7 linked regions of the Homo sapiens genome follow. The protein of the gene in region 5 purifies or fractionates together with the protein of the main gene of each other region. This does not show direct contact. Each region holds a gene or a part of one and is shown on either strand. Other genes may lie near its edges. The genes, in order: NFU1, SOD2, EIF5B, TXNRD2, CS, ITIH3 and SGK1.

What was found.
Region 1: the proteins of CS (region 5) and NFU1 fractionate together in Homo sapiens (co-fractionation; one large-scale study listed by BioGRID). This does not show direct contact.
Region 2: the proteins of CS (region 5) and SOD2 fractionate together in Homo sapiens (co-fractionation; one large-scale study listed by BioGRID). This does not show direct contact.
Region 3: the proteins of CS (region 5) and EIF5B purify together in Homo sapiens (affinity purification with mass spectrometry, with the first as the bait; one large-scale study listed by BioGRID). This does not show direct contact.
Region 4: the proteins of CS (region 5) and TXNRD2 fractionate together in Homo sapiens (co-fractionation; one large-scale study listed by BioGRID). This does not show direct contact.
Region 6: the proteins of CS (region 5) and ITIH3 fractionate together in Homo sapiens (co-fractionation; one large-scale study listed by BioGRID). This does not show direct contact.
Region 7: the proteins of CS (region 5) and SGK1 purify together in Homo sapiens (co-immunoprecipitation; one large-scale study listed by IntAct). This does not show direct contact.

What each region holds. Positions count from the first base shown.
Region 1 is NC_000002.12:69,416,568-69,420,948, forward strand, and holds part of NFU1 (NFU1 iron-sulfur cluster scaffold homolog, mitochondrial), read right to left. Parts: intron 3,038-4,381; coding exon 2,971-3,037; intron 1-2,970. UniProt on the Homo sapiens protein: Iron-sulfur cluster scaffold protein which can assemble [4Fe-4S] clusters and deliver them to target proteins.
Region 2 is NC_000006.12:159,675,628-159,680,008, reverse strand, and holds part of SOD2 (superoxide dismutase [Mn], mitochondrial isoform A precursor), read left to right. Parts: 3' UTR 1-4,381. UniProt on the Homo sapiens protein: Destroys superoxide anion radicals which are normally produced within the cells and which are toxic to biological systems.
Region 3 is NC_000002.12:99,361,197-99,365,577, reverse strand, and holds part of EIF5B (eukaryotic translation initiation factor 5B), read right to left. Parts: coding exon 3,758-4,381; intron 1,934-3,757; coding exon 1,716-1,933; intron 1,308-1,715; coding exon 1,157-1,307; intron 1-1,156. UniProt on the Homo sapiens protein: Plays a role in translation initiation.
Region 4 is NC_000022.11:19,931,268-19,935,648, forward strand, and holds part of TXNRD2 (thioredoxin reductase 2, mitochondrial isoform 5 precursor), read right to left. Parts: intron 2,464-4,381; exon of another isoform or gene 2,400-2,463; intron 2,260-2,399; exon of another isoform or gene 2,174-2,259; coding exon of another isoform or gene 2,167-2,173; intron 1,287-2,166; exon of another isoform or gene 1,103-1,286; coding exon of another isoform or gene 1,090-1,102; intron 1-1,089. UniProt on the Homo sapiens protein: Involved in the control of reactive oxygen species levels and the regulation of mitochondrial redox homeostasis. Maintains thioredoxin in a reduced state. May play a role in redox-regulated cell signaling.
Region 5 is NC_000012.12:56,290,088-56,294,468, forward strand, and holds part of CS (citrate synthase, mitochondrial precursor), read right to left. Parts: intron 1-4,381. UniProt on the Homo sapiens protein: Key enzyme of the Krebs tricarboxylic acid cycle which catalyzes the synthesis of citrate from acetyl coenzyme A and oxaloacetate.
Region 6 is NC_000003.12:52,797,514-52,801,894, forward strand, and holds part of ITIH3 (inter-alpha-trypsin inhibitor heavy chain H3 isoform 4 preproprotein), read left to right. Parts: intron 1-303; coding exon 304-417; intron 418-1,452; coding exon 1,453-1,578; intron 1,579-1,858; coding exon 1,859-1,975; intron 1,976-2,239; coding exon 2,240-2,408; intron 2,409-3,024; coding exon 3,025-3,150; intron 3,151-3,451; coding exon 3,452-3,633; intron 3,634-4,381. UniProt on the Homo sapiens protein: May act as a carrier of hyaluronan in serum or as a binding protein between hyaluronan and other matrix protein, including those on cell surfaces in tissues to regulate the localization, synthesis and degradation of hyaluronan which are essential to cells undergoing biological processes.
Region 7 is NC_000006.12:134,171,054-134,175,112, forward strand, and holds part of SGK1 (serine/threonine-protein kinase Sgk1), read right to left. Parts: intron 3,814-4,059; exon of another isoform or gene 3,755-3,813; coding exon of another isoform or gene 3,679-3,754; intron 3,534-3,678; coding exon 3,458-3,533; intron 3,028-3,457; coding exon 2,952-3,027; intron 2,514-2,951; coding exon 2,409-2,513; intron 2,305-2,408; coding exon 2,221-2,304; intron 2,102-2,220; coding exon 1,970-2,101; intron 1,722-1,969; coding exon 1,609-1,721; intron 1,264-1,608; coding exon 1,140-1,263; intron 680-1,139; coding exon 584-679; intron 126-583; coding exon 1-125. UniProt on the Homo sapiens protein: Serine/threonine-protein kinase which is involved in the regulation of a wide variety of ion channels, membrane transporters, cellular enzymes, transcription factors, neuronal excitability, cell growth, proliferation, survival, migration and apoptosis.

The sequences.
Region 1 (4,381 bases), on a different chromosome or scaffold from region 5:
TCAAAAAATTTACTTATATATATTACTTAAAGGGTATGAAAGAAATTTGGCTGGGCATGGTGGCTCATGCCTGTAATCCCAGCACTTTGGGGAGGCCGAGGCGGGTGGATCACCTGAGGTCAGGAGTTTGAGACCAGCCTGGCCAACATGGTGAAAACCTTTCTCTACTAATAATACAAAAATTAGCCGGCGTGGTTGCAGAGGCCTGTAATCCCAGCTACTAGGGAGGCCAAGGAAGGAGAATCGCTTGAACCCGGGAGGCGGAGGTTGCAGTGAGCCGAGATCGTGCCACTGCCCTCCAGCCTGGGCGACGGAGTGAGACTCCATCTCAAAAAACAAAAAAAGGAAACAATATAGAGATAGTACATAAAAGGTGAGATAAATGGGGACTGCTAAGGTTATAAAAGTAAAACTAGTGAAATATCTTAGTGATTGGGAATGGAAACTAGTTGTAGGTAATAAATTATTTGGAAAACAAATCAGAGTGTTACCTCAGATCTTCAGTAAATAGCAGGCTCTACTAAATAGGAAAATATTGGTAATAAAAAGAAAAAATATTCTAAAGTTGTCTGAATGAGAAAAAAAGGGCAGCATATAAGCTGCAAATATACATATATATTTAGAAAAAAATAACACAAATGATGCATAAAGAAGTCTAATTATCAACTGGAAATCAGAAATAGAAACAGGCGATTGCTGAAGACATTCAGTAAAATGTGATAGTCCATGATGAGAAACATTACTGGAAGAAAACAAAATAAATCCAGTATTCCGTCTATTAAATACCAACGTGGGCCAGGCGTGGTGGCTCACACCTGTAATCCCAACATTTTGGGAGGCCGAGACAGAAGGATTGCATGAGCCCAGGAGTTTGAGACCAGCCTGGGCAACATAGAAGGACACTGTCTCTACAATAAAAAAAAATAAAAAAAAAATTAGCTGGGCATAGTGGCATGCACCTGTAGTCCCAGCTACTCGGGAAGCTGAGACAGCAGGATCGCTTGAGCCTGGGAGTTAGTGGTTGCAGTGACCCATGATCGCACTACTGTATTCCAGCCTGGGGAAACAGAGCAAGATCCCATCTATATGTATGTGTAGATAGATAGATATACACACACACATACATATATGTGTATCAACATATACCCTAACTTGGGATATTATCTATTGGTTATGTCATTTCACTTAAGAAAAAATTGTAGAGCTAGGGCAATTTCAAATAGGGTAACTAAATAATGAAAGTAAGAGAGCTAAAAGATGACTTACTAAATCTAATCAAGAAAAATAGGAAAAAAAAAAAAACCAAAACCCTTTAAGATATAATCACATTTTTACCTATAAAAATTTTTATATAGCATAGGCTATACGTAAAAGAACTAAATAACTTTAAAAAATAAATATATAATTTCCCACTTATAAAATAACTAGTTGTAAGAATTAGATAACATATGTAAAGCACTAGGGCCATATCCGACATTGAATATATTAAATAAATGTTCATCCCTTCTTCTCCTTAAAAAATATGGAAGAAAGAAAACTGAAGAATGGGGGGCTGGACGTGGTGGTTCACACCGGTAATCCCAGCACTTTGGGAGGCCGAGGTGAGCAGATTGTTTGAGCTCAGAAATTTGAGACCAGCCTGGAAAACATGGCGAAACCCTATCTCTACAAAAAATACAAAAATTAGTTGGACATGGTGGTATGCACGTATAGTCCCAGCTACTAGGGAGGCTGAGGTGAGATGACTGCTTAAGCTCAAGAGGCTTAGGCTGCAGTGAGCTGAGATCATGCCACTGCACTCTGACCTGGGTGTGGAGTGAGACTTTGTCTCTAAATAAATAGCCGCAAGAGAATACTGGACTAGATGACTAGATTTAACATGTCACTAACCCAGTATGTCCCCTTTTTTTCTTTTTTGAGATGCAGTCTCGCTCTGTCGCCCAGGCTGGAGTGCAGTGGCCCGATCTCCGCTCACTGCAAGCTCCGCCTCCCGGGTTCACGCCATTCTCCTGCTTCAGCCTCCTGAGTAGCTGGGGCTACAGGCGCCCGCCACCATGCCCGGCTACTTTTTTTTTGTATTTTTAGTAGAGACGGGGTTTCACCATGTTAGCCAGAATGGTTTTGATCTCCTGACCTCATGATCTGCCCACCTCGGCCTCCCAAAGTGCTGGGATTACAGGCGTGAGCCACCACACCCGGCCCCCAGTATGTCCACTTTTAAGGACATAAAGAGCTCAGACTAATCCTTTCAATTTGCTTAAGGGGAGTTTAATAAATATTTTTGATTTTCACACACTATCAGGCAAGTGATTTAAGTTCCGTGGATATATGTCAATTAACAGATTTAAAAGGATACATAGTTCAAATTTAAATAGTTCATGTCCCATTAATCTAGTAGACATCAAAAATGGAACAGCCCTTTCTAGCAGATACTGCCTTGACTGTTGAAAAACATAGCATATTTTTTATAGGCGTGGTGGCTCACGCCTGTAATCCCAGCAATTTGGAGGCCGAGGCGGGTGGATCACCTGAGGTCGGGAGTTCTAGACCAGCCTGGCCAACATGGCGAAACCCTGTCTCTACTAAAAATATAAAAATTAGCTGGGCATGGTGGCAGGCGCCTGCAATCCCAGCTACTCAGGGTGGCGGGGGGGGGCGCCGAGGCAGGAGAATCACTTGGACCTGGGAGGCAGAGGTGGCAGTGAGCCAAGATCGCACCATCACACTCCAGCCTGGGGGACAAGAGCAAGACTTCATCTCAAAAAAAAGAAAAAGAAAAGAAAAAGAAAAACATAGCATATTTCGCTTGATTCTTGTGACATTTAGAGGACAAGAGAGTAAGACCCTGTCTCAAAAATAAAATATAAAAATTAAAGAACAGAAAGAATGGAAATGTTGGAGAGAGAGGCATTGGACTCAGAAAAAAATGAAGAGTATTTCAAGTCTTATTTTATATAATCCTATGTTTACCTTTGTGACAGTGATGAAATCTGGTCCAAAGAAGACACTTTTTACTCCTTCAATCCTAAATAACTGCCTGCAAAAAAAGAAAAAATAAGAGATATTAAAATGCTTGATTATGGAAAAGTTTAAACATACACAAAAGTAGAGAAAAGTAAAAAATTCTCCACATATCCTTTGCAGCTTTAACAATGATCAACTCATGGCCAATTTTGTTTTATATTCCTACTCTACGATTTAGCAATCCCACTCCTAGTTATTTACCCAAAAGAAATAAAAACTCGTGCTCCACAAAGACTTGTACATAAATCTTCATAGCAGCTTCATTTAAAATAGCCACACATACAGAAAAATATGGAAATGTCCATCACCTGGTGAATGAATAGACTGCTATATCTATACTATCAATCATTCATTCAACCAATATTTGACACCTACTAAGTGCCAGGCACTGTACTGAGCACTAAACAGACTATTTTTTTTTTTTTCTCTTTTGAGACGGAGTCACCCTCTGTCCCCCAGGCTGGAGTGCAGTGGTGAGATCTTGGCTCATTGCAACCTCCGCCTCCTGGGTTCAAGCAATTTTCCTGCCTCAGCCTCCCAAGTAGCTGGGATTACAGGCGCCCACCACCACGCCCAGCTAATTTTTGTATTTTAGTAGAGATGGGGTTTCACCATGTTGCCCAGGCTGGTCTCAACTCCTGACCTCAGGTGATCCACCCACCTCCCAAAGTGCTGGGATTACAGGCATGAGCCACCACACCCAGCCTAAACAGACTATTTTCAAAAGACTAACTTGAAAAGAGATTTTGCCAACTGAACATCTGACAGAAATAATCTCTAACTAATCTATAACTGAATTAATTGGGGCTTTTTTACTTTTACTTTTTTAATACAAAATATGAACTCATTCTTGATGTAAATGTTTCAAACAATAAAATTTAAATGCCCCTTGACTACCCCTACCAAATCCTGTTATCAGTTTCGTGTGTATTCTTCCAGATCTTTTTGTCAGTGCATTTGTTGTTCTGTGGTTTTTGCTTTTATATACATAGTATCATATTGGACTCACTGTTCTGCAAGTTGCTTTCTTCACTTGTATGTCTCAGATGTCTATGACAGTAAATACATCCCTGCACGTATCTTGGGCACATGTGCAAGTAACTTCTAGGGTAGGGTTTTTAAAACCCAGTAGTGAGTTGTGGAATCATGTATGTAGTGACAGGGTTTTATGTAATAAAATAAAACAGAACAACAAAAAGAGATGAAGAAAGGAAATTTAAGAATCTATTATCTATTGTAAGGGTGAAAAAATAGTGAAAACTATCCCATCAAACATTTGTATCTCACGCATACACACACATAATGTAAAACACTTTTTACTGTGACTTATATCAAAAAAGTACGAAAAACAGCCTGT
Region 2 (4,381 bases), on a different chromosome or scaffold from region 5:
GATTGATTTTAAGAGACTAAGGGAATTTACAAACTAAAGATTTTAGTCATCTGGTGGAAAAGGAGACTTTAAGATTGTTTAGGGCTGGGCGGGGTGACTCACATCTGTAATCCCAGCACTTTGGGAGGCCAAGGCAGGCAGAACACTTGAAGGAGTTCAAGACCAGCGTGGCCAACGTGGTGAAACCCTGTCTCTACTAAAAATACAAAAATTGTTTAGCTCTGTTTTTCATAATAGAAATAGAAAAGGTAAAATTGCTTTTCTTCTGAAAAGAACAAGTATTGTTCATCCAAGAAGGGTTTTTGTGACTGAATCAGCAGTGCCTGCCCTAGTCATAGCTGTGCTTCAAAAACCTCAGCATGATTAGTGTTGGAGCAAAACAAGGAAGCAAAGCAAATACTGTTTTTGAAATTCTATCTGTTGCTTGAACTATTTTGTAATAATTAAACTTTGATGTTGAGAAATCACAACTTTATTGTACACTTCATTGCAACTTGAAATTCATGGTCTTAAAGTGAGATTTGAATTTCTATTGAGCGCCTTTAAAAAAGTAATACCAAACCATAAAGTTAAAATCTATGTATATTGAGTCATATCTAAAACCACGTATAAACATAAATTGTATTTCCTGTTTTAATTCCAGGGGAAGTACTGTTTGGGAAAGCTATTATTAGGTAAATGTTTTACAAATTACTGTTTCTCACTTTCAGTCATACCCTAATGATCCCAGCAAGATAATGTCCTGTCTTCTAAGATGTGCATCAAGCCTGGTACATACTGAAAACCCTATAAGGTCCTGGATAATTTTTGTTTGATTATTCATTGAAGAAACATTTATTTTCCAATTGTGTGAAGTTTTTGACTGTTAATAAAAGAATCTGTCAACCATCAAAGAGGTCTGCATTATGCTTGCATGTCAAAAACTTTAAAAATCCTATAATCTTCTGTCATTTTCACTGAGTTTCCATGGGAAAGGAATAGTAAATAATGGGTAGTTGAAATATTACTCTTAAGACCAAGACCTGTATCTCCAGTCATATCTGTAATAACATCATCTGATAACCTAAAAGCATAGTATTAGGGATATACGACAAAACCAAAGTGTTTTTGCTGTTGTCACATACCACTCAATACTTTTACACCAGGTTGTCCAGTGGACACCAGCTGGATGTCCTATAATTCAATTCTGACACTGTCTACCTGGAATTGGAGTCAGATCCCACAGGTGGAGGGCTCAGCCCACAAGACTGCCCCCACTCCAGATACCAATCGCAAGTCCCTATACTTCTGACTGGCTATAAAGTGGGGTTCCCGTGACCCTTTCCTTGGTTTTGATTTATTTGCTAGAGCAGCTCCCAGAACACAGAGAAACACTCTACTTATGTTTACCCATTTTTAATTTTATTACTTTATTAAAACTACATATTGGTTACAATACTAATTTATTGTAAAGGATATTTCATTTATTTATTTTTTTATTTAGAGATGGAGTCTCACTGTGTCACCCAGGCTGGAGTGCGGTGGCACAGTCTCAACTCACTGCAACCTCCACCTCCTGAGTTCAAGCGATTCTCATGCCTCAGCCTCCCAAGTAGCTGGGATTACAAGTGTGCACCACCATGCCCAGCTAATTTTTGTATTTTTAGTAGAGATGGGGTTTCACTCTGTTGGCCAGGCTGGTCTCAAACTCCTGACCTCAAGTCATCCACCCACCTCAGCCTCCCAAAGTGCTGAGATTACAGGTGTGAGCCATTGCCTCTGGCTTGTAAAGGATATTTCAAAGAATACAGATGAACAGCCAGATGGAAGAGATGCACAGGGCAAGGCATGTGGGAAGGGGTATGGAGCTTTCATGCTCTCTCCACGTCATCAGCTACCCAGAAGCTCATCTGGACCCCGACCCTTTGGGGTTTTACGGAGGCTTCATTATGTCAGCATTACCATTGGCAATTGGCGATTAACTCAACCTTCAGCCTCTCTCCCCTTTCTGGAGGTTGGGGGTTGAGGCTGGGAGTCCAAACCCTCCAATCTTGCCTTGGTCTTTCTGGTAAGCAGCCCCCCGTCCTGAAGCTACCTAGAGGCTCCCAGCCACCAATCATTTCATTGGCAAACCAAAGATACTTCAAGGGGTTTAGGAGCCAAGAGACCAAGCAAGGATTGAGACAATATATATATTTCTTATAAATAACATGATCACAAATAGTATTTTATATATTTCTCATAATAGCTGGTTGTGGTTACTCACACCTATCATCCCAGCTACTAAGAAGCTAAGGCAGGAGGATCACAGGCCCAGGAGTTTGCAGCTGTAGTGAGCTATGATTGTGCTACTGCACTCCAGCCTGGGTGACAGTGTGAGACCCTGTCTCTTAAAGTTCTTGTAACATCTTAGAACATTAACCAACCACAGATTATTGCCTTAACTCTGAAAAATAAAGTAATCATACTTTTACAAGATGTATTTTACATAAAGTTCTGGTGATATTTTACTCTGGTCATTGGAATATAGGAGCTTACCACCTGGTACCACTCTTCCTAAAGTGGTATACTATTTGGTATAGTACTGGCATACTATTTGGAAAGGGATGTGAAGTTGGCATGACCTGTCTAGGGTGAAGTCATGCTGTCTGCTATTCATTGTGGGCTTTACAGTAATGAGAGTGCTTCTGTTGTCAAGATGCTTCTGGGACACGTTAAAAAAAATTTAAGATTTCTCAGTTTGTGAAAAGGAAGGAGCACGAATGCTTTCAAGTTCCTATGACATGCTAGTCATCTTTCAGTGTGTCCCATTGTTGCACCCAGTAGTCTCGATGCCCAGCGTCACGGTGATTCCAAGTTTGCCTCTCTGCCCACTATAATTTGTGCTCCATGAAGTCCCAGGACATGAGGTTCTTGTTCATTTGTGCGTCTGGGCCCATATCCAAATATTAAACAATGTGACTTAATGTATTTATCATATTGTAAATATGGGTATCCCCAAGGCTCAGAAGTTAACACAGCATATCCACAGAGAGGTTTGACAGCATGGCTGTGGTGACTGGGAAGGCCTTATGCTTGCTCCTCCTTCTGCTGCTTGCCTTTGTGTGGGCATGGAAAGAACATTGAATTAGGTACTGGAAGACCTGGGTCCTGGTCTTGGAGATTTTACCAGAGCACCTGTGGGATATTGGTCAAGATGCCTGGTTTTAGTCCTGCTCCTTTGCTGTGAAAGAGGATCTTAAGGTGCCAACTCTGGCATTTTATTTTTTACTTATTTATTTTTAAATTATACTTTAAGTTCTAGGGTACATGTGTACAACATGCAGGTTTGTTACATGTATACATGTGCCATGTTGGTGTGCTGCACCTATTAACTCGTCATTTACATTAGGTATATCTCCTAATGCTATCCCTCCCCCTTCTCCCCACCCCTCGACAGGCCCCGGTGTGTGATGTTCCCCTTCCTGTGTCCAAGTGTTCTCATTGTTCAATTCCCATCTATGAGTGAGAACATGCGGTGTTTGTTTTTTTGTCCTTGGAATAGTTTGCTGAGAAGGATGGTTTCCAGCTTCATCCATGTCCCTATAAAGGACATGAACTCTTCCTTTTTTATGGCTGCATAGTATTCCATGGTGTATATGTGCCACATCTTCTTAAACCAATCTATCATTGATGGACATTTGGGTTGGTTCCAAGTCTTTGCTATTGTGAACAGTGCCACAATAAATATACGTGTGCATGTGTCTTTATAGCAGCATGATTTATAATCCTTTGGGTATATACCCAGTAATGGGATGGCTGGGTCAAATGGTATTTCTAGTTCTAGATCCCTGAGGAATCGCCACACTGTCTTCCACAATGGTTGAACTAGTTTACAGTCCCACCACCAGTGTAAAAGTGTTCCTATTTCTCCACATCCTCTCCAGCACCTGTTGTTTCCTGACTTTTTAATGATTGACATTCTAACTGGTGTGAGATGGTATCTCATTGTGGTTTTGATTTGCATTTCTCTGATGGCCCATGATGATGAGCATTTTTTTCATGTGTCTGTTGGATGCATGGATGTCTTCTTTTGAGAAGTGTCTCTTCATATCCTTCACCTACTTTTTGATGGGGTTTGTTTTTTTCTTGTAAGTTTGTTTGAGTTCCTTGTAGATTCTGGATATTAGCCCTTTGTCAGATGAGTAGATTGCAAAAATTTTCTCCCATTTTGTAGGTTGCCTGTTCACTCTGATGGTAGTTTCTTTTGCTGTGCAGAAGCTCTTGAGTTTAATGAGATCCCATTTGTCAATTTTGGCTTCTGTTGCCATTGCTTTTGGTGTTTTAGACATGAAGTCCTTGCCCATGCCTGTGTCCTGAATGGTACTGCATAGGTTTTCTTCTAGGGTTTTTATGGTTTTAG
Region 3 (4,381 bases), on a different chromosome or scaffold from region 5:
CTGAATTTCTTCATGGGTGCTTTTAGCCTCTCCAATAGTCACCAATGAAATCTGATGTATGAATGCTAACTATATTCAAGTTTGTACCTAATTTCATTTAAAATTTTACAAAAGCTATATTCTCCATTAAGAATAAAACTTTCTAAAATCTAAGTACTGGGTTTCTTCACATCTAATGTTCCTAGCTGAACATATGCGTAAGAAAAAGTTGCACAGACCAGCTTAAATTTCAGCTCTGTGGCCTTGGGTAAGCTGTTTACACTCTGAACCACCATTTCTTCATCTATATGATGGAAGTAAAAATAGCTATAAGATTTTTTTATGAGGGAAAAATAGACAATGTCAAAGACATTGTAGCATCAGTTACACACTAAGCACACAATAAATGGTAGCTATTACTGTAATTATAGCATAAACACCAAAATGACTGTAATATAAAAATCTAGGGAATATAGGAGCAGGAAATTTAAGAGAGGTCCCAATATATTCTTCTCATTGGAGCAAAGACACTATTTTAAATCACCTTACCTTTCAAAAAAGTAATAAATTATATGCCCAGTTGTGATCTCTAAACACTATTACCCTCTAAAAGGAACAAAAGCTCTTTGGATAAACAACCGATTCCAGGTCTCAGCCCATGCAAGATGAACCTGGGATATCTTGTTGCATCAGAAAGTAAGGAAAGGGTTAAAAAAAAATGGTCATGAATACTTTTTCACCGTGGTCATGTGGGCAAACTAATATGCTGTCTGGGAATCACTGTATTTCTTTTTTATTTTTTGGGATTCACTTTAAAACATGCTAGGATAAAAAGTAGATGGAGAGGTACAAAACAAGAATGTCAAATGGTCCTAATTGTTGAAGCTGGCTGATAGGTACACAGGGACTCATTCTATTATTATCACTATTCTTGTTTGTGGGAGGATAACTTATTTAGACATACTATCATTTACATATAAATTTTTATCCTCATGTAGATGTCATCTTCCTAAACAATGAAATGACATCACCTATTCCTTACGTTTTACTGAACTTTTTCACAGATTTTTCATAGGAACTGTCCTGATGCAAATTCCATTCTCCTTCTGAACATTAAGGGATATAACTGCATGTGCAGAGCTCTCTGACCATTCAGTTAATGAAGAGTACCACTCACCCTGAGCTTGTAGCAGTTTAAGAGTAGCTTCGGCTCTGGCTCTGGCTTCTCTCTGGGATTTAGTTAAAAGTTTCCCTTCTTTTTTCAAGCGTTCTTTTCTTTCTTTTTCTTTTTGCTTTTTCCTTTCTCTTTTTTCTTGTTCCAATCGTTCCTATAAAAGAGTACATGTCAGACAAAACCTGTATTCATTTAATGAACTATAAAATTCAAATGTAAACAATCCAAACTTCAAATAAATCTCTTGAGACACATGCAAAGTATTATGTTAGGAGATTCCAAATCAAAGTATTTTAAATGTTATACATGATTATTAATTAATATCACATCAGATTATTGGCAATGATACATAAGCAACTTATGTATCGAGCAATCTGTTCTTGAGAAAATAAAGATAAGATGTGCTGTACCTCTTCATCTTATTATTTGTATCGGAACAATAATATAACTGAATTACCATGCAACTATGAAATTTTCAGAATTAGAAGAGTAAAGATATTTTACAGAGAATAGATTTTAAGTTAAACACAATATCAATGTTACCAACTTCATGAAAACATACCTCTTCTTTACGCTTGGCTTCTAATTCTTCAAGCCGTTTTATACGTTCTTCCTCTTCTCTCTTCTGTCTTTCTTCTTCCTCTTTAAGCTTAGCCAGAGCTTCTTGCATAGCTTTAACAGTGGCTTTGCTAGGTCCTTTTTTCTTCTCTTTCTCTTTTTCTTCCTTTTCTCCTTTCTTTTTCTTCTTATCTTTCTTCTTTTTGTCTCCTTCATTGTCATCTACCAAAAAGAATAAAGGCAAAGCATTGAAATGAAAAAACAATTCCCTGTGGTGATGACGAGCAAAACCCAACCACAATTCAAGGACCATAATGGGCCAAGGCCGATGCCAGCAGCAGGCTAAGTTCTACAGGCATCAAGGCATCCTGAGCACTTTGGTAACTAGAATAGCTCAGAATAACTCACAGATGGCCTCCTGAGAAGTCTGCAATACTGATGTTGGTCTCAGATGTCCTGAGGAATACAGTAAGACAGAAGGATACTGTCAGCAGCAAAAGGGCAATCCTGTACCTAATGTATCTCTAAATCCATGGTACCTGAGTGGCTGGTGTCCAACAGATGCTTATATGAAGTTCTAACAATCAGAATGAACTAACACCCACGTAAGTTCTGTAGCTAATTTCACTTCTACAAGATGGAGTTAATGAGAATGATGTCCACTTTAGGGGGTATTAGTAGGATAAAATACAAAAATATAGGTAGTTATACTCCAAGAACTCTAAAGAATTAAAAGCTATGAAGGTACTTTCATGGTGTTCCTCCTCGAATATATCCAGATAATAAATATGCTAGCATTTAAAAAAGTTGCTGGGCACGGTGGCTCACACCTGTAATCCCAACACTTTGGGAGGCTGAGGTGCATGGATCACCTGAGGTCAGGAGTTCGAGACCAGCCTGGCGAACATGACGAAACCCCATCTCTACTAAAAATACAAAAATTAGCCGGGCATGGTGGCGGGCTCCTGTAATCCCAGCTACTTGGGAGGCTGAGACAGGAGAATCACTCGAACCTGTAAAGAGGAGGTTGCAGTGAGCTGAGATCGTGTCATTGCACTCCAGCCTAGGCAACAAGAGTGAAATTCCGTCTCAAAAAAAAAAGTTGTGTCAATTTTCCCATTAAAAGTTTTCCAGTCAAAAGAAAAACTACTGCTTTTGTTGGTTTTTTGAGACAGAGTCTCAGTCTGTTGCCCAGGCTGGAGTGCAGTGGTGCGATCTCCGCTCACTGCAAGCTCCGCCTCCTGGGTTCACGCCATTCTCCTGCCTCAGCCTCCCGAGTAGCTGGGACTACAGGCGCCCGCCACCATGCCCGGCTAATTATTGTATTTTTAGTAGAGATGGGGTTTCACCATGTTAGCCAGGATGGTCTATATCTCCTGACCTCGTGATCTGCCTCAGCCTCCCAAAGTGCTGGGATTATAGGCGTGAACCACCGCGCCCAGCCCAAAAACTACTGTTTTAAGAATATAGTATGGCCATGCAAACCATCTGATCTTTAGCTATTTTCATTCTAAATAAGAGGAAGAAATTAGCTAGAACTTTTATTTTATAATTGGTTGTTAAAAAAATGGCTCATTATTGCTTAAAAGACACTAATTTTAGCATGTTGAGTTTTAAGTGAAGCAGAAAATATTAGCAACTTCATGAAAACATTTCTTTGTGAATTTCATAAATTGAACTAGGTTTTTAAAGACAGGAAAGAATTCAAATATTATCTGACACTGAGTTATCAGAAAGGAAGAATAAATTTTTCATTAAGTAACTTCTATAGCCTTTATCAACAGCAAAAAAAATAGTTTTCATAATGCAATTCTATAAAAATTCCAGTCTGTACATAAATAATCTGAAAGATATTTATACTATATATGTAAAGAATTAACAATGCAAATCAAGTCAAATACTTAGACGTAATTTTTTAGATGGCTCCTTACAATCAAGTGTCTTTATACCCATGGACAAATAACAAAACGACCTTGGGGCACAATGATTACAACTTATACTGTGAATCAAAAGCCTTTTGCTCTTTCCTCTAAAGTATTAACCAACCTTCTGCAGCTGTGGGAGTCTCTGCTTTCTCTTCAGAGGCAGGAATTACTCCAGTATCAACAGTCACTTTGGATTTTACAGTTTCTTCTTCAAATTTCCTTTGAGATTCCTTTTGTTTACTCTGATCCTTTTTACCTGTTTCTAACTCTTCTTTTTCTTTCAGCTTCCGCAGTTTCGCTTTTTCTTCATCTCGCTTTTTTCTCTCGCGCTCCTTCTTTTCTGCCTTCTTTTGGGCCACTGTCTTAATTTTGAAGGAGGCGTCATCATCTTCATTCCCACTTTCTATGTTAGGACCTGGCTTGTTTTTCTGATTTTTTTTCTGTCCTTTTCTAGATTGCAAAAATTCATCTGATTCATCACCACTTTCACCAGAAGAATTTATTCTTGAACGCTCTTTAATTTTTTTACTGTTATCCTCATCCTCCTCTGACCCATCCCACTTCTTATTTGATTTTTGAGCTTTCCCTTTAGCTTTTTTAGGAAGTTTGTTAAAATCATCATCATCATCACTCCCAGAGTACATTTCCACTTTCGGTTTTGCAGTCTTTTTTGATTTTGAATCTTTATCTTCCAATTCTTCGCTATCATTATCATCAAAACTCTGTTTTTTGCCCTTCTGTCCTT
Region 4 (4,381 bases), on a different chromosome or scaffold from region 5:
ACCAAGCCATATGGTGGTGAGGTTGGCCGTGGGCGTGTGTGATCATCTTTGCAAATCACACGCACACCATACCAACCACTCTGAACTCAAACCTCACCCAGTGTTCTCAGCCAGACACAGAACTAAGATATTTTCTTTTTTATTCTATTTATTTTTGAGACAGGATCTCACTCTGTCACCCAGAAGATTGTAGTCCACTGCCCTGCTTGGGGGAGGGATGAAAGGTGAGAAGGAACACGGTCAGCACAGGGCTGGGACATAGACCCGGAAGGGCCCCCACGACAGGGGCACAGTGGCACAATCACAGCTCACTGCAGCCTCTACCTCTTGGGCTCAAGTGATCCTCTAGCCTCAGCCTCCAGAATAGCTGGGACTACAAGCACCGATCACCACGTCCAGCTAAATTTTTTTGTTTTGTAGAGATGGGGTCTGGCTATGTTGCCCAGGCTGGTCTCAAACACCTGGCCTCAAGCAATCCTTCCACCTTGGCCTCCCAAGGTGCTAGAATTACAAGCATGAGCCACCAAGGTGGACTAAAACATTCTCAAGTCCACGTGCCTTTCAGTTGTGAAGGCTGCCCTCCGTCACAAGTGAGCAAGAATAAAAGCACAGGCTAGGGGCGGTAGCTCACGCCTGTAATCCCAGCACTTTTGGAGGCCAAGGCGGGTGGATCACAAGGTTAGGAGATCGAGACCATCCTGGCTAACACAGTGAAACCCCGTCTCTACTAAAAATACAAAAAAATTAGCCGGGCATGGTGGTGGGCGCCTGTAGTCCCAGCTACTCGGGAGGCTGAGGCAGGAGAATGGCGTGAACCCGGGAGGCGGAGCTTGCAGTGAGCGGATACCACGCCACTGCACTCCAGCCTGGGAGACAGAGTGAGACTCCGTCTCAAAAAAAAAAAAAAAAAAAAGAATAAAAGCACAAGCAGCCCCTGTCCCTCACAGCTGGCCAGTGCACACAGCCAGGGTCTTGGTGTGCCCAGCTGCAGTCAGCTAGGAGGGAAGCCACCCTGGGCACAGGGAGAGCTGCCTGGGCTCAGGTTTCATCCCTGGAATTCCTTTTGGGCTGGTTGTGGTGTCGCCTCACCTTGGTCCTCCATGGTGGCTCACTGCACATAGTGCCACTCTCAGCCTTTTTAGCCTGCAAAAGGTGTCATCGTGTCTACTCTGCAAGCTACTGGCGAGGAAGGCAGGCAAGGGGCAGCCAAAAAAGGGAGGGATGGAGAAGGGACTGGAGGGAGGAAGTAGAGAGGGGAAGTACACTGAACTGGGCCTGAGGTCCGGGACACCCAGCACCAGGCACCAGCCAACTCCCTGCTGAAGGAAGGAAGAAATAATAGCAAGTCATCAGTCTGCTGGGGTGAGGGCAGGGTGGGGACTGATGACAAGACTCTAGGGTATAAAACAAGTAGTGCCCTCAGCCCCTCTGCAGACACGAGCCTGCCCAGATGAGAAGCACCACCCTCCCAGAGCATCTGGAGCCGGTCGCTGCTTCAGACAAGGCCAAGAGGTTCCATGATCAGAGCAGGGTCTGTCATACAAGGCTGGGCAACCTGCCCAACACCTCCATCAGAGCCTAGCGTCTGCCATGAGAAGGCTGCACTTATCTTTGCAGCCACCTCCACCTTCCTAGGCAGGCAAGGCTGCAGAGAGTGTACTTGGAGTGTCATGTCTCTCCACACCCTGGCCCTGCAGATGCCCCACAGACAGGTCTAGAACATGCACTCCTAAAGGATACAAGAGCTGGAGCCTAGAGGAGCCCTGGCTCACAGCTGAGAAAGCTTGGGAAGCTGCATCCAGGCACTCAGGCCATGGCCTGCAGCGAGCCTGCCCCACAACCAAACCCACCCACTCTTTCACCTGGCAGCCAGCCTCTGAGTGCACGTGAGATGTGTGCGCACCTGCGGGAACTGACAGAGCCACAACTCGGTTCCAACAGCCAGTCCAAAGCACACTCAATTCCTAATTCAACTCAAGGGCTCTGGAAAGGCCTAAATTGTTGTAAATTATTCTAATGGCTTTAATATAAGTCTAGAGAACCAAGGACTGCTGGTCAGGGAGAAAATGCCACCAGGTCCCCCGGGGAGCATGAACCTGCTGATGGAGAAGCATCTCTCTCCTCCAGCTGCCTGGTAGCCGGAAGCTTTGCTCAGAACGTCCCTACCTTCCATGGCAGGTGCCTGTCCTTCTTGTTGCCATAGCAGGGCCCTTGTTAGGTCATCCTGCCCTGCAGCCTCGCACTGTGCCCCCTCTGTCTGCTATCAGGCAGGGTGAGCAGCTGTCTGTATGGATGTGCTTATCTTGGGCAGCTTGCTCGCCCCCTGTGCACACCCAGGAGCCCTCTCGGGCTGATAAACACTGGCATAGGGCAGTCGTTTGCAAGCATAGGAAATCTGCCTTTAAGCACTTGGAAGGGCTTGGGTAGCCTGCTGGGAAGGAAGGACCCCAAAGTACCTCAAAGGTGGGTAGGGCAGATGCTGTTCTGTGGGAGGAAGGGCTGGGTGGCAGGCGTTACCTGGGGACACACCACCTGTGCACTCCAGTGTCCTGGAGAACCTCATAACCTTGCCTTTCACCCACTTTAGCCAGGCATACCCTCTCCACCTGCAGGGCTTGGCCCCAGCAAGTGTCTGTCTTGCCTCTGCCTTCTGACATATTGTCCATTAATTTTCTGCTCCTCTTTGAACCCACTGCCTGGTACAGGCCAGCAAAGAGCAGGAGCCCAGAGCTCATAGCAAGGCCCAAGAGAATGCAGCACTGCACCAGTGAGGGCAAGTGGAAGGGTCCCCCAAAATGTGCACCCACAGGCAGGCTGGCCACCTCAGGGTGCCACCTCAGGGGCCCTCCTGTATGGCTGCTCTATCTAGAGCTCTTTCCTGGCAGCAGGTGTTGTCATTCTGGCTCCTGTTCAGGGGCTGCATCGCCCACCCACTCCAAGCCTGGGACAGTTCAGGTCTTCCTACTCTAAAAGGAGAAACTGCAGGGCCCACAGTCCCAGCTACTAGGGAGGCTGAGGCTGGAGGGTGAGTTGAACCCAGGAGTTCAAGGCTGCAGTGAGCTATGATAGCACCACTGCACTCCAGCCTGGTTAACAGAGTGAGACTCTGTCTCAGAAAAAAAAAAAAAAAAAAACTGCACCCCTAGTCTGGGTACAGTGGCTCACACCTGTGTTGCAGGAAGTCAGGAACCCCGAATGGAGGGACTGGCTGGAGCCGTGGCAGAGGAACATAAATAGTGAAGATTTCATTTCAATATGAACATTTATCAATTCCCAAGTAATACTTTTATACTTTTTTCTTTTTTTTTTTTTTGAGGCAGATTCTCTCTCTGTCGCCCAGGCTGGGGTGCAGTGGCACAATCTCAGCTCACTGCAAGCTCCGCCTCCTGGGTTCACACCATTCTCCTGTCTCAGCCTCCTGAGTAGCTGGGACTACAGGCACCCGCCACCACACCTGGCTAATTTTTTGTACTTTCAGGAGAGACAGGGTTTCACCATGTTAGCCAGGATGGTCTTGATCTCCTCACCTTGTGATATGGCTGCCTCGGCCTCTCAAAGTGCTAGGATTACAGGCATGAGCCACCGCGCCTGGGCCCCCAAGTAATACTTTTATAATTTCTTATGCCTGTCTTTATCTCTTAATCCTGTTATCTTCATAAGCTGATAATATACATCACCTCAGGACCACTGTGATAATTGTGTTAACTGTAGAAATTGATTGTAAAACGTGTGTTTGAACAATATGAAATCAGCGCACCTTGAAAAAGAACAGAATAACAGTGATTTTTAGGGAACGAAGACAACCATAAGGTCTGACTGCCTGTGGGGTCAGGCAAAAAGAGCCATATTTTTCTTCTTGCAGAGAGCTTATAAATGGACGTGCAAGTAGGAGAGATATCGCTAAATTCTTTTCCTAGCAAGGAATATTACTATTAAGACCCTGGAAAAGGAATGCATTCCTGGGGGGAGGTCTGTAAACGGCCACTCTGGGAGTGTCTGTCTTATGCGGTTGAGATAAGGACTGAAATACGCCCTGGTCTCCTGCAGTACCCTCAGGCTTATTAGGGTGGGGAAAAAACTCCGTCCTGGTAAATTTGTGGTCAGACTGGTTCTCTGCTCTTAAACCATGTTTTCCGTTGTTTAAGATGTTTATCAAGACAATATGTGCACAGCTGAACATAGACCCTTATCAGGAGTTCTGATTTTGCCCTTGTCCTGTTTCCTCAGAAGCATGTGATCTTTGCTCTGCCTTTTGCCCTTTGAAGCATGTGATCTTTGTGACCTACTCCCTATTGGCACAACCCCTCCCCTTTTAAAATCCTTAATAAAAACTTGCTGGTTTTGCGGCTCAGGTGGGCATCATGGTCCTACCGATACGTGA
Region 5 (4,381 bases):
GTTTCACCACGTTGGCCAGGCTGGTCTCAAACTCCTGACCTCAAATGATCCACTTGCCTCAGCCTCCCAAAGTGCTGGGATTACAGGTATGAGCCACAGTGCCCGGAAGATTTTATGTTTTTTTGTTTGTTTGTTTGTTTTTGAGAAGGAGTCTCACACTGTCACCCAGGCTGGAGTGCAATGGCACAATCTTAGCTCATTGCAACCTCCCTCTCCCAGGTTCACACTATTCTCCTGCCTCAGCCTCCTGAGTAGCTAAGATTACAGGTGCACACCAACACACCCGGCTAATTTTTTGTATTTTTAGTAGAGATGGGGTTTCACTATGTTGGCCAGACTGGTCTCGAACTTCTGACCTCGTGATCCACCACCTCGGCCTCCCAAAGTGCTGGGATTACAGGCGTGAGCCACCGCGCTCAGCCTGATAGCCACTTTCTAGCACCGTTCGGTGTCAGGTTCAGTCATGTTTTTTGCTAAACCTGAAGCTTAAAAAAAAAAAGTTATCAGAGGAATTTTAAAGGCAGCAATTCATTGGTAAGATTGCTCAAAAGGGTAGAGTAGAAAAAATTCAACTTAGGACAACTTTATCTAATGATGTAGAGTACAGAGCACTTAATTTGGAGTTAGGAAAGGAAGTCTGGGTTCTAGTCCTAGCTCCATTACTAATTAAGACAACCAAAGGAAAACAATGAACTACTATTTCTCTTCCCATTTCCATAATTAAGATAACACTTAAACTACTTAACTCAGAGTCTGATTCTCAGGTTCCAATAAGGACGTATATGCAAAAGTAGTCAAGTCTTGTTACTTAAAATGTGACCTCCTCGCCAGAAGTATTTACATTTCTTGGGCCTCAGACTTACTGAATCCAAACAGTTTAGATATGGAGTTACCAAGGACCAAGTCCTAAATGAACGTTCTGCCACCTTCCCACTGTGTTATCTTGGCTATGTAACCTAATTTCTAAGTCTCAGTTTTTACATTTCTAAAATGGTAATAATAAAAGCCAATTTCAGAGTAGTTAAGTAAACTAAATAAAATAATTTTCATAAAAGCATCTAGAACAGTGCTTTGTGCATAGCTGAATTCAGTAAATATTTGTTTCTTACAAATGTGTTGGCCTATCACCTACCATCAAGTGTCAGAACTTCCTGGGAGTTGGATCCCAGGAAAGAGGCAGTCAAGCCTGAGGCAGAGGTGAATGGATAATTCCTTCCAGCTGTGGAATACAAAATAAAGTCCCAATTTTCTTTCTTTCTTTCTTTCTTTTTTTTTTTTAACAGGCATCAAGGAAAAGATACCAGTTTTCTTTTTAAGGGCTTCTTGACCAAGAAGGGAGGCATCTCAGGGAGAGGAAACAAATTTAACTAACCCTGATGGCCACCAGCAGAGCAAATGACTCTAGACAGGAGGTGCTTGAGGACTGTAACATCAAAGGCTACATTTCATTTCCTCTACCCCGTGGCTGCCAAAGAAAGCTGCTGAATGGCTCTGAACAGTACATTCAGGTTATGTTCATTGATGAGACAGGTAGATTACAAACCTCTGAATCATCCCTGAACTTCTACCTCCCAGATTCTCCCCTAATCCTGGAGGTGTGACAGTTGGGCTTTTGGCTTCTGGATGCATGCCACCTGTAGAGTCACCTTACTGGAACAGCAGCTCTCAGGAGAATCAGGCAGTCATCTCACTCAATAGGTCAGCTCCTTCATGGGGAGAGATGGAGAGGGCTACTTCCAAAGACAAGGGCCTGGCTCACAATGTCTGACAGCCAGTATTCTCTATAGGGTGGAGGTGGCGTTATCACAATCACGAAGAGGTTTTTCCCCCACAATCACTAAGAGCTCATTTGTTGCCACCCCTTACAAGAACTCCTCTAGTGAGTCAGCTATTATTGATAGAGGTGGGCTGTAGCCCTCAAATGTGGTAAGATGAAAAAATATAAAAATTAAAAGAGGCCAGGTATGGTGACTCACACCTTCCTTTGTTCTCCTCTGCCTTTGCCTCTTTAAAAAAGTTCTAAGTTGCAGCTGGGCACTGTGGCTCAAGCCTGTAATCCCAGCACTTTGGGAGGCCAAGGCAGGCAGATCACGGGGTCAGGAGATCAAGACCATCCTGGCTAACATGGTGAAACCCCGTCTCTATTAAAAAATACAAAAAATTAGCCAGGTGTGGTGGCAGGTGCCTGTAGTCCCAGCTACTCGGGAGGCTGAGGCAGGAGAAGCTCCGGGAGGCAAAGCCTGCAGCGAGCCGAGATTGTGCCACTGCACTCCAGCCTGGCTGACAGAGCAAGACTTGGTCTAAAAAAAAAAAAAAAAAAGTTCTAAGTTGCTAGCCAATCAGGACAAATACAAAATGTGAGGTCCCATTCCAGCCAATGGAAACTGGAACTGGACACAGCAGTAGGGTGGATGCATCAGGGTATAAATGACCCTGTCTCCTTTGCTCGGTGTACTCTCGTGGCAAAACTGCTGGCGTGTACCCTTTCTGCAGAAAGTATAAAAATGGCCTTGATGGCCTGGCGCGGTGGCTCACGCCTGTAATCCCAGCACTTTGGGAGGCCAAGGCAGGCGGATCATGATGTCAGGAGATCGAGACCATCCTGGCTAACAGGGTGAAACCCCATCTCTACTAAAAAAATACAAAAAAAAAAAAAAAAAAAAAAAATTAGCCGGGCGTCATGGCGGGCGCCTGTAGTCCCAGCTACTCAGGAGGCTGAGGCAGGAGAATGGCGTGAACCTGGGAGGCAGAGCTTGCAGTGAGCCGAGTTCGCACCACTGCACTCCAGCCTGGGCGACAGAGTGAGACTCTGTCTCAAAAAAAAAGGCCTTGCTGAGTAAATTAAATTAAATTAATTAAATTTATGTTCAAGTGCTATTTCTTTACAGCACCAGGGAACAAGCATTTCAAACAGGAGGCTGAGGCAGAAGAATCGCTTGAACCCAGGTGGCTGAAGCTGCAGTGAGCTGAGATTGTGCTACTGCACTCCAGCCTGGGCAACAGAGGAGACTCTGTCTCAAAAAACAAAACAAAACAAAAAAAGCCCACTTACTCAATATAGGTTATTTTCCTCTTACTCCTTAGCCTATTACCATCACTGTTCCACATCTAGCACCCTCACCCTACAGTCAAGAAGCCAAATTTTCTTTGATTCTCCATCCTAGGTACATCCAGACTCTCTCTGTCCTTCTGCATATCCAGGATATGTCCTACCACATATCCACATAACCAACATTAAAACCTTGGGGGAGGCTGGGCGCAGTGGCTCATGCCTATAATCCCAGCATTTCTGAATTAAAAAGCAAGACTCTGTCTCTACAAAAAATAATTTAAAAAATTAGAAAACAGGCTGGACACGGTGGCTCACGCCTGTAATCCCAACACCTTGGGAGGCCAAGGTGGGTGGATCACCTGATGTCAGGAGTTCAAGACCAGCCTGGCCAACATGGTGACACCCCATCTCTACTAAAAATACAAAAATTAGCCAGGCGTGGTGGCACATGCCTATAGTCCCAGCTACTCGGGAGGCTGAGGCAGAATCGCCTGGACCTGGGAGACGGAGGTTGCAGTGAGCTGAGATTGCGCCATTGCACTCCAGCCTGGGTGACAGAGCAAGACTCCGTCTCAAAATAATAATACTAAAAAAAATTAGAAAACAAAACAGAAAAACCTTGCGGAAGAAGCTCCTGATTTTAACAGGGACTTCGTCCTTCATCAACAAAAGATCAGAGCTTGCCAAGCCAGCAGGACTGGCTTAGCTGATGGAGCAAACACAATACACTAATAACCAGTAGGAAAAAATCCTGTACTACAGACACTTCCAATGCAGAAGGAACAACTTGCATTCAGAGAACACGAACACAAATAGGACAAAGGCTCCTCTCTCCCCAGAACCAGGTCAGAGAACTAAAGCCATTTAATGTGTGTGTTTCACAACGGTGATACTGGAAGTCGGTTTGGCACTACATGGTCAGGCCACTTAAAAGCCTGAGCAATCTACAGATTTCATACTTTGACCTCCTTCATACTTACAGACATTTCCTTAATAATTCTACCTAACTGTCATTTTCCAACAGTCTCTTCACGTGAATAGTCACCGATCACTGCTGGGTGCAGTGGCTCATGCCTGTAATCCCAGCACTTTGGGAGGCCAAGGTAGGCCGATCACCTGAGGTGAGGGGTTCAAGACCAGTCTGGCCAAGATGGTGAAACCCTGTCTCTACTAAAAATGCAAAAATTAGTCGGGCACGGTGGCGCACACCTGTAATCTCAGCTAACCGGGAAGCTGAGAAAGGACAATTGCTTGAACCCAGGAGGCAGAGGTTGCAGTGAGCCGAGATCATGCCACTGTACTCCAGCCTGGGCGACAGAGCAAGACTCT
Region 6 (4,381 bases), on a different chromosome or scaffold from region 5:
CTCTGTAAGGCTTCTCACTGGGCACATGGGCATTTTTCCTACCTCAAAGCTGAAAGCCAAAGGAAAAGCATCAGTGGTGGAATTTCGGGCGCATATGGCAGGCGGTGGTAACACCTCCCGATCAGCATACTCTCCTCCAAGCCCCTGTGGTCACTTTCGCAGTGGGAGACACCAGGCTTGGCCCTCAGCACTGTCCTAGAGGGTCCCTGCATCACCACAGACCCATCTCATTCCCATTGGCCTTGTTCTGGGAACTGGCCTCTGAGGTCACTGAGTGACATTTCCTTACTTTGGCCATTTCAGATCGAGGTAGACATCTTCGAGCCTCAGGGAATCAGCATGCTGGATGCTGAGGCCTCTTTCATCACCAACGACCTCCTGGGAAGCGCCCTCACCAAGTCCTTCTCAGGGAAAAAGGTGATGTAGATGCCTCTCAGACCTGGTGGGGCAGGGGACAGGAATACTGACTCCAGCAGAACAAGCCTGCAGCCTAGGGCTTAGCTGCTGCAAGCATGCATGTGTTGGGGTGGGGCTGGGGATCAATCTGCAACTATCACCTTCCTCCTTGCCCACTGGGGTTGGGAGTGAGGATGCTGAGGGCAGGGGCTGCTGACAATGACCTGCCAGAGGAGCCATTTACAAAGCCTGGTCCCGTTCCCCCTTGGGAAATGGACAGGGCAGGGCTTATCTTCCCTGTTTTACAGGTCCCGAGGCTGAAGCCCAAGGGAGTCATTTAGATCTACTGACTCCACAATGAGAGGTGAAAGACTAAAGAGAACTTCATTCTTGGTGCTAGGTGGTTGACTCCAGTCCCCAAGGCTCCCAGCTGTTCCAGGGGCCTTAATGGCAGTGGACAGTGGGTGAATAAATGTTTGTATAAACAACAAACCAATCATCCAGGACTTCCAGGGCGAGGCCCGAGGAGCACACACTCAGAGGACTGCTGGCTTCTGCAGGGCCACATCCTGCCCCGGGACCCTCCTCCTCCCCTTTCTCCTCCTTTCTCCCTCCCCTCCTCTTGGCACCCACACACCAACATTCCAAACCTACAAGAAATTCCTTTTAATGGGAAGCTACCCCTTCCCTAAGTAGCTTCTCAGTGCTGAGCTCCAAGGTAGCCTGGGCTAATGGGTGTGTGAGGCCAAGAAAAAGGGAGCTGGAAGCTGAATCAGCCAAGGCCTGTGCCCAGCCAGGAGCCCTGATCTCCAAGGGGAAAAGCGGTGCTCAGAAAGGCCGGAGCGTGGTAAACAGTGCCTTCCAGTGAGTCCTGGGAGCTGCAGAGCACGCCACCGGCGGGCAGGGCTGCCCAGGCCTCCAGCTCTTGCTAGCCTCTGCCCTGCCAAGGGCTCCTCCCTGTGAGGCTGCACCTCTGCTCCCTCAGCTAAGGGCTGAGGTCTCCCAGTGGGCAGGCCCTGGCCGAGCTGAGCAAGGTCTTTCATCTCCATCCCTTAGGGCCATGTGTCCTTCAAGCCCAGCTTAGACCAACAGCGTTCATGCCCAACCTGTACAGACTCCCTCCTCAATGGAGATTTCACTATCACCTATGACGTGAACAGAGAATCTCCTGGCAACGTGCAGGTACCCGGGCTGGCTGATTCATCATCAGGGTGGGGCGAGGGCTGGTCGGGCGGGGGCTGCAGCTGGATCTAGTGCCATCACCCTGGGTCCTCAGCCCAAGGCTGTTTTCCTGCAGGATGTGGGACAGCTGATGGCCTAGAGCCTGGTGCAGCACCCCCTAGAGGGTGGGATAGGAACGTCTTTTTCTTGGGCTGGTAAATGTCTGGCTTCTACCTGCAAGAATAGTCAATGTGGTGTTGCTAAAAGGACACCGGCCTCCGTCCCTCTCCCCACTTTCCAGATAGTCAATGGCTACTTCGTGCACTTCTTTGCACCTCAAGGCCTTCCAGTGGTGCCTAAGAACGTGGCCTTTGTGATTGACATCAGCGGCTCCATGGCTGGTCGGAAATTAGAGCAGGTAATCAGCACCAGTGGCACAGCCAGGGCTCGGGGTAGTAGGGGGTGGAAGAGATTTTTTTTTTTAACTGGAAAAAGCTGATCTTTGTGGTGAATGAGGAGAAAGGGGACAGGATAAGAGAAGGCTCACGGCCTCTGCCCGCTTCTGTGGCAAGCCTCAGGCAGGGCTCGCTGGTGCAGATGGCGTGGGCTGCACCGCCTGCTGAGCTGAGAAGGGACCTCACTCTCTGCTGCGGCTTCTCCCAGCTCTTTGTCTCTCCTCCAGACAAAGGAGGCCCTTCTCAGAATCCTGGAAGATATGCAAGAGGAAGACTATCTGAATTTCATCCTGTTCAGTGGAGATGTGTCCACATGGAAAGAGCACTTAGTCCAGGCCACGCCCGAGAACCTCCAGGAGGCCAGGACGTTTGTGAAGAGCATGGAGGATAAAGGAAGTAAGAGCGGAGCTGGAGCCCACACACCTCCTAGCGGTGCCTCCCTCTGTCCCTGAGCAGCCTGCAACCCCCCTCTTAGGGACTCTGCTGGTCTCAGGCCCTCTTCAGATCTGAGCTGGGGTAGAGGTGGGAGTGGATGGTCCTCAGGCTTGAAGACAGAATATCGGCTGTCTTCTCCGTGGTCCAGGGAAACCCATTCTTTCTGTTTCTAATCCATGATCCTGGTATCTCACAAGTCCCAGCAAGATAAGGCCACAGAGAACCCTTCTTCTTGGCCCTGTTTCATATGGAAAATGGCACGATGTCTACACTGCTCCCCTCTCCTCCCAGCAAGAGGTACTGGGAGTCCATCCAACTCTGCCAAAGGGCTTTCACAATCACCATGTGCTTTTCGTCTTCACCATGTGCCTTTCATCCCCATTTGAAAGTGGAAGTTGTTTGTTTGTTTGTTCATGTGGTGGTTCATTCATTGTTTGCTGAGTACCACCATGGGCTGGCAGATAGGGTCCTTGGGCACATGAGTGGGGCCGGCTGTCCCGGCCTCCTCCGCTCCAGCCTGTCTGCACACTGGCACCCTGAGGACACCCTCCCACGGTGCTGTCTGTCTGTGTCCCAGTGACCAACATCAATGACGGGCTGCTGAGGGGCATCAGTATGCTGAACAAGGCCCGAGAGGAGCACAGAATCCCAGAGAGGAGCACCTCCATTGTCATCATGCTGACTGATGGGGATGCCAATGTTGGTGAGGAGCACGGGCATGGTTTTGAGCTAGGGCTGGAGTGCTTGGCTGCTGCTCCTGGCTCTGTAGCTGGCTCATTGGAAAACCTGGGGCAGCTCTTCCCTGGGTTCCCTGTGGTCTGGGAGCCCCTCAAGGGCAGGGTCCTGCCTCCCTCTGCCAGGGCTCTCCACCACCTGCCCCACAAGGGCTCATGGTCGTGACTCCAGCAACTCTGCATGTGCAGGAGTCCGGTCTCCCCAGACAGAGCTGGTCTAGACCATCCCCAGGGCTGGGGCTGGACTGTGAACACCCCCTTCTCCAACAGGTGAGAGCAGACCCGAAAAAATCCAAGAGAATGTGCGGAATGCCATCGGGGGCAAGTTCCCCTTGTATAACCTGGGCTTTGGCAACAATCTGAATTATAACTTCCTGGAGAACATGGCCCTGGAGAACCATGGGTTTGCCCGGCGCATTTATGAGGACTCTGATGCCGATTTGCAGTTGCAGGTATGCCTTGTCTTGCACACTTCCGGGCATAAGGAGCTCACTACTTCCTCAGACAGCTGCTCCATAAGGTGACAGTTCTAGTTATTAGGAAGAGCTTCGTCTTGGGTCAAAATCCACCTCTGACTATCTCTTACCCATCAGTAAAGATTCTGATTTTGTCCTTGGGCTACACAACAGGCCCGTTTCTTCAACAGGATTATCAGAGCAAACACAGGACATCTGGTTCAATATGAATTTCTGATAAATAATGAATTTTTGTAGTGTAAGTATGCCCCAAATATTGCACAGGACATTGTATTAGTGTATGGCGGCTGCCATACCAAAGTACCAAGTGGCTTCAATGAGAGAAACGTATTGTCTCCCAGTTCCAGAGCCCGGACATCCCAGATCCATGTGGCGGTGGGTTGGTTCCTTCTGAGGGCTATGAGGGCAGATCTTTCTAGGCCTCTTTCCTTTTCTCCATGGCTTATCAATGGCTGTCTTCTCCCTGTGTCTGCACATGTCTTCCCTCTGGATGTCTGTGTCCAACTCCCCTTTTAATAAGGACATCAATCATATTGGATTAGGGCCCATACTCATGACCTTATTTTGTAGACCCTATCACCAAATAAGGTTGAACTTTAGGAGTACGCTATTCAACCCATAACAGACATACCTACACTAAAAAATTATTCATTGTTTATTTGACCTTCAATGTAGCTGCACGTCCTGTCTTTGCATTTGCTGAATCTAGCAATTTTGTTCCTTC
Region 7 (4,059 bases), on a different chromosome or scaffold from region 5:
CTGTCCTTCTGCAGGAGGCCCTCCAGGAGGTGTCTTGCGGAATTTGTAATATTTGGTTTCAGCTGGAGAGGCTTGTTCAGAATGTTGTCGTACATTTCAGCTGTGTTTCGGCTATAAAAAGGCGGCTGAAAGAAGGGGAAAATTACTTTAGACTTAATTGGAAGTTTCATATGGCACACATTACCAGTAGAGAAAAAGATATAAACGGCAATAAATATTAGGCTCGATTTGAGAAACTCTCCCCACCTCAATGCTTTCTTTTCCCTTGCTATTTAAGTGTCTACTTTGCAACCCGTGTGTGTGTTTGTGTGTGTGTGTGTGGAGGGTGAGGGGGTAGATGTTAATAAGTGGTAGTTTTTCACCACCACACAGGTTCAATGTGGTCCTATCTAGTAAAATGTGAAATGCACAAAAGAACCAGGTAAGTGATTATTCTTATGAACTATAAAATAACCAATATGCCTCTTAGCTGCTTTTGATAAGCGTACTGGTAAGGGCAAGACACCATGGCCAAGCATGGGCTGTGTGAAGGCAATATTGTAGGGAGCAGGCAGTGTTCCATGGTTCCCAATGTGCCACTCACCAGGCCATACAGCATCTCATACAAGACAGCTCCCAGGCACCACCAGTCCACAGTCCTGTCATAAGGCTGCTTATGAAGCACCTCAGGTGCGAGATACTGAAAAACAGACCAGGGAAACAGCGTTTAGAACCTGCGAAAGCAAGCAATCCCACGACCACACATTTAGTTTGAAAAAGCTGAGAGACCCAGAGCCAGCTTGGAAGATAGATATCTTTAGATTCCTTCCTGATAAAACTGCTGGACTTTTTGAGGGTGACTGGCTACCTATGTGTACTGACATTTAGGAAACTGCTGGGCACTTGATATCTCTTACTTAGGGATTTAGAAAGTTTTTATGATGCAGATCTTACTTACAAACAGCTACTTTTCAGTAAAGGAACAGAAGGACTTGGGATTTCTCATGCTACATCAAACAGCAAATGTATTTTATTTGCACTGAACTGTATTAAGAAGTCTCTGAGAGGAGTTTACTCTTTTTGGTAGTTAAGTGCATGATTGTACATCTCTCTCTTGGAAGGCGGGGGTAAACCAGGCACCAAACCAAGACAGCGCCTACCTCCGGCGTGCCACAGAAGGTGGATGTTGTGCTGTTGTGTTCAATGTTCTCCTTGCAGAGTCCGAAGTCAGTAAGGACAATGTGTCCCTGTGAATCTAGCAAAATATTCTCTGGTTTTAAGTCTCTGTAAAAAAGTGAATAGAAAAGTAGTTGCACAAGTTAATTTCACTTCATAAGATATCCTCTTAAAGATAATTGCTAAAGGTATTAGAGGCATTTTAGGTTCACTGTAGTTGTGTAGTGAAGAAAAAAGGGAGCCCTTGTTCTGCTCATCTATTCTGGATTAGGCACAATCCTACTTGGCTGGTTCCCCCTTGGCACTTAAGTCAAGCCAGCTCACGTGCTAGGGGATCTGGTTTTAGGCAACCAAGTTGCAAATAAACACAAATTATTTTAAGGCCCTATGAAACAGCCAGTGCTACGTCTCCTTTATACCAAAACTGGTAGCCTGAAGAGCTCTCAGGCTTACCTATAAACGATGTTCAGTGAATGCAGGTAGCCCAAGGCACTGGCTATTTCAGCAGCATAGAAACGAGCCCGTGGTTCCAGGAAGCAGCGTTCCCTCTGGAGATGGTAGAACAACTGCAGGAGACAGAACAAAGTCATTCTGGGTTGCAAATGAATTTAATTAGTTTTGACATACACAGCAAAAGAACAACTGCAGGAAGTGGCCCCAAGTAATCTATTAACTATAAACCTGACAGGTTGAAGGAAATGCTAATTCTGGTAACATTCTCCCCACCAAAAATCTTTGAAAACTTTTTTCTCAAACTAAAACAAAGCAGGCTGTGCAGAGACACTAAGAGTTGACTTCTATCCCCCCTGCTCACCTCTCCACCATTAATGTAGTCTAGGACAAAGTACAATTTGTCAGCAGTCTGGAAAGAGAAGTGAAGGCCCACCAGGAAAGGGTGCTTCACATTCTTCAACAGAACATTCCGCTCCGACATAATATGCTTCTCCTAGGAAAATGACGATTCAGATTTAGTGGCATGTTTCAACTTGGCACCAACATTCCAGAATCAAGATTATTCAAGGAGTGTCTACCGCCAATGCCAGCCCCATCAAGCACATCTCATACCTCTTTCTTTTTCAGGATTGCTTTCTTCTGTAAAACTTTGACTGCATAGAACACTTCTTCTGCCTTGTGTCTTGCTAGAAGAACCTGAAATTTCAATTTAAAAAAATCATTTTTCTATCCTCATCCAGGGAGAATACAAAAGAGGACATGAAGGAAGTGTACCAAAAGATCTTCAGATTTGAAATTACCTTTCCAAAACTGCCCTTTCCGATCACTTTCAAGAAGTGAAAGTCAGATGGTTTAGCATGAGGATTGGACGACGGGCCAAGGTTGATTTGCTGAGAAGGACTTGGCTAGAAAAAAAAAAAAAGAATTTCTTTTAATACCATTGCTTCAAAGGAAGACATCTATAACATAAACGATGTAGAAAATGTTACATCTACAAATGACTGATGCAAATGACCATACATCTATAAACATTCAAAACTACATTTCATCACATTTCAAATGAGTATGGAAACTGCACACAGTCATGTTGTTTCAGACAGATAAAACCTTTTTATGAAATATGCCTTTTAAAATAACCACTTTGGAGGTAAAATATGCCCAGGAAAAAAATAAAATAATACTCTGACTCAATACTTAAATATTTATATCACTTGTTATGCCATAATGAAGCATTCCTGCCTTGATACTAATTTCTAGAAATGCTATTTTAATCCATTAATGTAGGAATACTAACTGACTCCCTTACAGTTCTCCACAGATGCACGGCACATACAAAAACTTACTGGAGGAGAAGGGTTGGCATTCATAAGCTCAGGCTCCTGAGGTTGGGAGATCTTCAAGATGGACTGAACTTCAGGGCTGCAGGGAATAAAGGGCACGATTTAGAATCCAGCTCGCCACTAGGGGGCACACCAACATCAAAAGTGAGTTTCTGGCTCTACCGACTTCTACCCGGATAATTCACTGTTTAAACTGAAAATACCCCAATACATTAGTCAGTTAAAGAAAATAATAAACCCCATTAAATACAGAAATAAGGATTGTTGCTCATGGAGAAAGGCCGTGAATTCGGCCAACACGAACCATTTATCTTACATCTCCAGTTCAAGCCAAATCAGCAAATTAACTTTAATGTTTAAAATGTGTCAAATATATTAGAATTTAAGGAGAAATGAGATCCCCACCCCAGAAGAAGTCTTCGCCTTCCCGATAAACGCCGTGATGAGAATGTTTACCGCTGGCAAATTCAAACTATACTAGTTATTTCCTCAAATCCGGTCAAACTTACTGTTTGCATGCATAGGAGTTATTGGCAATCTTCTGAATAAAGTCGTTCAGACCCATCCTCCTCTGCTTCATGAAAGCTGTGGATGAAGGAGGAGAAATAAAGAAACGTTTAGACGGCTTCATAACGTCCGGCGCCACACACACTAATCTGATCCGGGACTTTCAAAAAATTTCCACTTTGCGTCTCCTGGAGCAGAAGTCCCGCAAGATTCCTGCACTCACCGATGAGAATTGCCACCATGCCCCTCATCCTGGAGTAAGTGAGGGTGCCCTTAGCAGCCTCAGTTTTCACCGTCATCACCACCGCGGGGAGACAGAAAGACGTTAGCGCTCAAAGACCGGCTCGGCGTATGCTGCGCCAGGCCGCGCGCTCGGCCTTATAAAAAAGGCACCGCCGCGGGGGCGGGGCCTGCGCGACAGTGAGAAGTGGCCCCGCCCTTCGCCTCGCCCCTCGCCCCGCCCCGGCCGCCTCGCGGTTTGCTGGCGGCTACGCTGCCTGCGGCGGGCGGTTCTGTCCCCATTGAGAGGGCGAGCCCCGGGCGGGGGCGCGAGGACCGCCCGGGGACGGCCTGGCGCAGGGCCGTTATCAGTCTCCATCGGCTC